Homo sapiens: one gene and its partner. The protein of the gene in region 1 interacts with the protein of each later gene in a pairwise test. Each region holds a gene or a part of one and is shown on either strand. Other genes may lie near its edges.

Region 1 (3,747 bases):
ATGCCAGCATTGAGAGGACAGCAGCGCCCTGGTCCCTTGGAAGGAAGAGGCTGAATTCGTGGGGAGGCTTACTTGGAGGTGGTCCCGTCTGGGTTGGTCCATCTGCAGAAGGAGAAGAAGGTGAAGATGCACACCCCAGGGGACAGCTGCTGAAGGGGGGCCGGGGCCGGGGCTGGGGCTGGGGCTGGGAGCTGGGACCTGGTGGGACCATGGGGATTTGGGGCAAAGGGTTTGGAGGGAGAGTCACCTCCGGTCTTGAGGGTCAGTGCTGGAGAAGGTGATGCTGTTCACTGGATAATGGCGGCGAAAGAAGAGCCTGCAAGGAGGAGGGTGAGGAAGGTCACACTCAGAAACATGAGCCCCCAGGGGCCTTAAGCATGGGGTTCTACAGGGCTGAGTATACATACTTCCTTTGGTTGTCCGTCAGTGTAATGCCCTGGGCTGACACCTTGAAGTGGACAACAGCTGGTGTCGGGCGGGGGCTACAGCTCAGAGCTGCAGAGCTGGCCCGGGCCACAGCTTGGGGGCCCGTCAGTGACTCTGTCTCCACTGAGGTCAAGTAGAGCACGCTGCAGGCTACAGGGGCAGGGAGTGGGTCAGGGAGGGAGTGCCCATCCCCTAGCCACCCCCACCAGCTCTTGCACATTCCCCAGCTACTGCTGTCACATGCTTTACAATCACATAGGTGACTTGTTAAAAAGGCAGATTCCATGACTCTACTGGATCTACAGTCAGAAGCGAGGCAGAGAAGCCTCCCTGCTACCACCCCATGATCGTCTTGTTCATGAGACTTTGAGAACCTAGGCTGAGGACCCAATTCCTCATCCCCGACAGTATGGGGCTCCCCTGCCCTCATGGGTTGGCCAGGGCTCACCCACCTCAAGGCCTTTCAGTGCCCCATGCCCTGTATCCACAATGCCCCCTTGGTGCCCAGGGAGAGGGAGGGGAGTGGAGGGGAAGTCTCTACCAGCACCCTGACGCAGGAGGTCTGCCGCTGTGCTCATGTTGGTGGGCACTGGAGCCTCTGGGGTCTCTTCCAGAGGATCTGAGGGCAATGAGAACCGACAGGGAAGCTCAGAAGGCAGAGTGTTCCCCAGGCTGGAGCACTCCCTCTGCTTCCCCAAGGGAAGGCGGGGAGCCAAGACCTCTGGATCCTGCTTTGGCTGCAGGGGGTAGGGAGAGGTGGGGAGGACAGATGACCAGACACTCACCTTTGCTGGGAATGCGCAGGCAGCAGGGCAGGGAGATGGGGGAGATGGAGTGCTGGGAGACCAAGGCGGACAGGCTGCCTGTGGGAGAGGAGGTAGGAAAGTCCCGAGATGCCCAGGGTGCCCCGCCTTTCCCTTCCATCCTCCTGAGATCCCTTGGCATCTCCCTAAACCGACCCAACGTAGCCTTCCCCAGGCTCCTGCTTCTCACCAAAGTAGGGCTCACTGGGGCAGCCCTTGATCTTCACCCCTTTGGGCCCAGTCTCGATGAGGAAATGGCGGACCAGCTGTTCCACGGGGTCCCCTGAGAGGAGGCGAGGGGAAGATTGCGGCTTTAGGATTCCAGGTTCCAGCTTCTTCCCTAATGGGATTCTTTCCCGAGCAGCTGAGGTCTTTTCCTACCTCTCCCCTCTACAGCGGCATGGCCAGCACAGCACCCCCACCTGCCCTGTTACCTTGCCTCTGGCACCACCCCCAACTTCATCCCCACCCCACTCAGGTTTGGGTGTTCTGTACCTTTCCAGGGCTGGGCACTGGGTGGCGGTGTGGCCACCTTGAGGGCCAGCCCATAAGCTCCTTGGAATGAATGACTGTCCCTGATCAGGAAGGCCCCAGGGTCCTTGTCCTTCAGCAGGGCAATGGCTGCAGGGTGAGGGGTAGCGGGCAGTGGGGAGGAGTTTTCACAGGGGTGGACTGAGCCCCATGCAGCCCCCCTCCTCTGCTGCCAAGCTCCATGGTCTCTGCCCTGACAGCTGTGGTGGCGGTAAGAGTCTGAGGCCAGGGCTCTAGAGTTCACAGGGGTTTTGACCATGTTGGATCTCACCGCCTTGGCCCAAAGCCCAGAATCACCTGCTGGTAAACACTCAGCCAAGAGTAAACACAGCTCAGACAGGAGGAGCCAAGAGCTTCAACAGGATGGGACTTAAAGCCAAGACAGACACCCTGGAAGGTGGGATGCAGTGGGGTGGGGGCAGGCTGGCTTCTCACCTTGGTCACGGGACAGGTGTGGCTTGTACCAGAACTTGGATGTATCCTGGACAAACTTGACATTGCTTTGGCTCTCTTGTGTAGGAGGCTCTAGGACAGGGAGGGAGTAGGTTCAGACCCCAGGGTACCCGGGTCCCCATCCATGCTACATCCCAGGAGAAAGGGTTCTCTCAAGGTGGCACCAACCCCCTCAAGGCCTTTATACCTGGGGTTTGGGGGACATTATCTGAGAGCAGAGGTGCGAAGGTGACATGGTGACTGATGCCTCTGGCTGGCGATGATGCCTGCTCTGGGCCCCAGGGTCCTGGCTGTTGCCCCGGCCCGGGCAGGTGGCGTTTCTCAGGAAGTGGGGGCTGGCTAAGGCCATTGGTGTCATAGGAGGCAGCCAGGGGGAAAGCAGGTGTAGGTGAGCTCTGAGGCGGCTCTGGGCTGGCCACAAGCCAGGGCATCTGGGAAGGCACAGGAGTGAGGGGAGACCCATCTGGGCTGTCGGGGGGGCCTCGAGGGCCTTGCCAGGGGGCGTGGCGGAGGCCAGGAAGTGTGGTGGGCACAGGGCTCCGAGGACTGGCGCCATCTGAGTGGCCCCCTGGACTCCTTTCCTGAGGCCAGTCACTGGGCGAGCTGGGAGGGAAGGTCGGAGAGACTGGGCTAGGGGCCAGAGGCTCAGGCCCACTTCCCGACGGCAGCTCAGGGGCCTTTCCGGTGCCTGCCTGGGAAACAGGGGGCAAGGCCTCGCCAGGACTCAGTCTCTGAGTGGGCGCTGAGGTGGGGGACCTGGTGTCCTGTCGCCGGGTGCTGTAGGGTGGAAGGGCAGATGGTCAGCAGAGCCCCCATTGTGGCTGCTCCCACCCCACCTGCCTTCATCAACTGCTTGGACAAGAAAGCACTCGAGCATCCCCGGCCCCTCTGCATACCTTTCCTTGCCCTGGACTGGACTGCTGGTGTGCAGGGGCGTGGAGGGACCAGACAACTCTGACGAAGCACTGCATGGGGCATCTCGGGGAGACCGAGGCAGTGTGCTGTGCCCACTGGGGCCCTCCCTCCAGGACACCGGCTCCAGCGACTCTGCAGTGAAGGGGAGAGGTGGGCTGTGAGCAGGATGGGGCTCTTCTGTCTGGCTTAGCTGTTTCTCACCCTGTTCCCCCTTGACTTCCCCACCATCTTCCAGAACCTCCTCTGCCCTGGGCACTCCGCACTCTGGTGCCCCTCACCTGCAGATGCCAAAGGTCCTGCTGAGGCCAGGTGCCCAGGCAATGGGTACCTGTCCCCTCCCTCCTCCGTAGGGATCTCGTAGCTCAGCTTCCTAGATTGTGGATAGGGCGGGCTGCCCGGGGAAATGGAGCCAGCCCGTGGGGAGTGGGCACCAGGGCTGGGATACCCTCTGCCCTCTCCTGGAGAGCCACAGCTATGAGGCACACGGCCATATGCTGGGCAGTAACTGGGAACTGCTCCTCCATAGCTGTATGTCACCAGGGCAGGGTACCCTGGATGCCCATACCTGCCTTCGGGGCACATGGTGTAGGAGCAGCCCTCGTGCCCTTCCTCGCCTGCC
Region 2 (3,747 bases), on another chromosome or scaffold:
ATGTTTTACAGTTTTCTTTATAGGGACTCTGCATTTCTAAGGTTTAATCTTGTTTCTTGTTGCTATTTGTTGAATAGATTTTTTTCCATTCATATTTTCTGATTAGGTGTTACTGGTATATAAGAAAGCTATCAGTTTGGTTGTTTTTTTGTTTTGTTTTGTTTTGTTTTGTTTTGTTTGTTTGTTTATTTGCTTTTTTTCTTTTGAGATGGAGTCTCACTCTGTTGCCCAGGCTGGAGTGCAATGGCGCGATCTTGGCTCACTGCAAACTCCACCTCCCAGGTTCAAGCAATTCTCATGCCTCAGCCTTGGGAGGAGCTGGAATTACAGGCACGTGCCACCACACCCAGCTAATTTTTGTATTTTTAGAAGAGACGGGGTTTCACCATGTCACCCAGGCTGGTCTTGAACTCCTGACTGTTGGGATCAGGCCCCCCCAAAATCTGGCTATAAACTGGCCCCAAAACCGGCCATAAACAAAATCTCTGTAGCACCGTGAAATGTTCATGATGGCCATAATGCCCACGCTGGAAGGTTGTGGTTGTGGGTTTACCGGAATGAGGGCAAGGAACACCTGGCCGGCCCAGGGTGGAAAACCCCTTAAAGGCATTCTTAAGCCACAAACAATAGCATGAGCGATCTGTGCCTTAAGGACATGCTCCTGCTACAGTTAACTAGCCCAACCTATTCCTTTAATTCGGCCCATCCCTTCGTTTCCCATAAGGGATACTTTTAGTTAAATTAATATCTATAGAAACAATGCTAATGACTGGCTTGCTGTTAATAAATACGTGGGTAAATCTCTGTTCAGGGCTCTCAGCTCTGAAGGCTGTGAGACCCCTGATTTCCCACTTCACACCTCTATATTTCTGTGTGTGTGTCTTTAATTCCTCTAGCGCCGCTGGGTTAGGGTCTCCCCGACCGAGCTGGTCTCAGCACCTGACCTCAGGTGATCCACCCACCTTGGCCTCCCAAAGTGCTGGGATTACAGGCATGAGCCACTGTGCCCGACCAGAAAGCTATCAATTTGGATACATATTTCTGATCATTAATTCTGGAAAGGTTGCAGGTTAGGGTTAGTTTAGGTTAGTTAGGGTTAGTTTAGATTAGGTCAAGTTTAGCAGTGTTTCGCCTTGTGCTCACAAGTGGCTCAGAAGCTGCCTCTCTTGAAAGTGCTTTCACCCTAGCGGGTAGGGGCTCCTTGGTGATGAAGAGGGAGCAGTGCTTGTTAGCAGAAAGTCCAGGGAGTGAGGATGATGAGGAGCAGGAGAAGGCAGTGGCCCTGGAGGAGATCCTGGAAGCTCATCCCAGATCAGGAGACTCCAAATGTGCCTGTCCCAGTGTGTGACCATGTGCAGGGTCCTCTGGAATGACAGGCACACTGCTTTGTCACATCAAGACAGTCAGGAATTCCAAAAAGAGTGATAGGAATGTCTCACTGCGATGTGGCTTTTGATCACCTAAAGAAAACTGGAAAGCCAGTTGCTGCTAATAACGTTGATCTATTGTTTTTGTTTTGGATTATTCCTTAGGGAAATTTTCAAGATTGAAATTCCTGAGTTTGAAAAATTAGCTCCTTATGCTGCCACCTTTGTAACCAGTGGGTGGGAGGGATCATTGCTCAGCCAGTGCCCTGAGTGGGTGTTCTTTATATTGCCCATTTGTTAGCTGTTGGCATGGCCTCAAGAGGGGGCTCCTCAAACTCCACTTCCAGTATTCTGTGGCGGTGATCTCCAGCCTGTCCCAGCCCCTGGCCCTGGAGCCTGGCATCTATAGAGGACTCGTCATTAGCCTGTCTTAATTTTTTAAAACTGTCCACATCATCCTCCTTCCCTGCCTGAACTGTGTTCTCATGGAGCAAAGCTTGGAGTTGGACGTCAGAATCCCGTGAAGTGTGGATGGAGTGTGTTGTTAAAAGCCAGTTTCTGGCACCCCCGATAGCTCTTACATTTTCCTGTCTTGAGTATGCAAGGTTTAGGTTGAGGTCCATGGTGTTTGCCTGGCCTGGTATCCTGTTACAGGCTCGTTCCAGGAAACTGAAACCTTTATCTGCCATAGTGTAAGTAAGGAAAAAATTTAAACTAGTTAATACCACTTTTAAAATGTATTTTGTTCATATTTTTTTTTAATTTTTATTTATTTATTTATTTATTTTGAGACAGGGATTCATTCTGTTGCCCAGGGTGGAGTGTAGTGGTGCAGTTACAGCTTACTGCAGCCTTGACCTCCTGGGCTCAAGCAATCTTCCCATCTCAGCCTCCAGAGTACCTAGGTCTACAAACCAGCTAATTTTTTAAATTTTTTTATAGAGACGGGGTCTCACTATATTGTCCAGGGTGTTCTTGAACTCCTGAACTCAAGCAATTCTCCCACCTTGGCCTCCCAAAGTACTGGGATTATAGGTGTGAGTCACCATGCCCAGCCATTTTTGTTCATTTATTACCAGAATACAATCAGACTTTGTGATAGGATTTTTTTTTTTTTTTTTTTTTTGAGACAGAGTCTTGCTCTGTTATGCAGGCTGGAGTGCAGTGGCACAATCTTGGCTCACTGCAACCTCTGTCTCCCAGGTTCAAGCTATTTTCTTGCCTCAGCCTCCTGAGTAGCTGGGATTACAGGTGCCTGCCACCATGCCTGACTAACTTTTTGTATTTTTAGTAGAGACGGGGTTTCACTATGTTGGCCAGGCTGGTCTCGAACTCCTGACCTTTTGATCCGCCCGCCTCGGCCTCCCAAAGTGCTGGGATTACAGGTATGAGCCACTGCGCCTGGCCGATTTTTTTTTTAATTAGCAATATGTGATGGTCATCTTTCAATAGAGACCTGATACTGCATTTTGTGTGATGCTTTTCTAAGACTCACCCCAGGTGGCAGTCTTTCCCTTTCACTTCTCCTTGCCACACACTTGTTGACAGCCTGGTATTGTCCTTTGGAGTATTTCCTCTGTGTGTTAATCAAATAGATAATAACACCTTATCCAGCAGCATCCTCCTCTGAGCCAAGCCTGTTCTTAGCGCTCTCCTCTCACCAACCACATGATCTCCAGGCCTTCAGAGGAGTGTGTCATCTGGATTTATAGGTGGGGCCTCAATGCAGCTGGCCCAAGTGAGGCAGGTGAACCAGTCCCAGGTCCTTGTGACACACATACCCTTCATGGGCTCGGGGTCATAGTTTACAAAATGAGATTTTCCCCTGCATGCTGGCCCCATGCTGCATTTTCACTCACCCATCTGGTGACCTGACACAACATACATCTTTCTCTTTAGCAGGTGTGTAACTTGTATGTGGAAGGACCAACGTAGCATTTGCCTCAGCAACATCCTTGAATCTGCACCCTCACCCACATCCATTCTTATCAGGTACCCACTATCCAAGGGCCAGTCTGATTTGCCTAAATACTGCTAGGTCGCCTTCTTAAGAGTATGAGAAACTCCACTTTCCCATGCCTGCCAGTTTAAAGTGTTGACTCCGTACTTGGCTATTACAGATGGCATAAAGTGTGAGCTCATTCCTCTTCATTCATTTATTCAACAAACAGGCCGGGTGTGGTGTTCTCAGGCCTGTAATCTTGACACTTTCGGAGGCCAAGGAGGGAGGATCCCTTGAGCCTAGGAGTTCAAGACCAGTCTGGGCAACACAGCAAGACCTCGTCTCTACCAAAAAAAAAAAATTAAGAAATTATCCAGGCATGGTGGTGCAACCTGTATTCCTAGCTACTTGGGATGCTGAAGTGGGAGGATCACCTGA

What was found. The genes of interacting proteins can lie anywhere in the genome.
Region 2: the proteins of TNS2 (region 1) and ZNF250 interact in binary tests that used the Homo sapiens proteins (3 or more experiments, as listed by UniProt).

What each region holds. Positions count from the first base shown.
Region 1 is NC_000012.12:53,059,918-53,063,664, reverse strand, and holds part of TNS2 (tensin-2), read right to left. Parts: coding exon 3,407-3,747; intron 3,261-3,406; coding exon 3,110-3,260; intron 2,991-3,109; coding exon 2,401-2,990; intron 2,286-2,400; coding exon 2,196-2,285; intron 1,851-2,195; coding exon 1,725-1,850; intron 1,513-1,724; coding exon 1,420-1,512; intron 1,290-1,419; coding exon 1,212-1,289; intron 1,046-1,211; coding exon 968-1,045; intron 577-967; coding exon 408-576; intron 317-407; coding exon 248-316; intron 103-247; coding exon 73-102; intron 1-72. UniProt on the Homo sapiens protein: Tyrosine-protein phosphatase which regulates cell motility, proliferation and muscle-response to insulin. Phosphatase activity is mediated by binding to phosphatidylinositol-3,4,5-triphosphate (PtdIns(3,4,5)P3) via the SH2 domain.
Region 2 is NC_000008.11:144,894,755-144,898,501, reverse strand, and holds part of ZNF250 (zinc finger protein 250), read left to right. Parts: intron 1-3,269; exon of another isoform or gene 3,270-3,359; intron 3,360-3,747. UniProt on the Homo sapiens protein: May be involved in transcriptional regulation.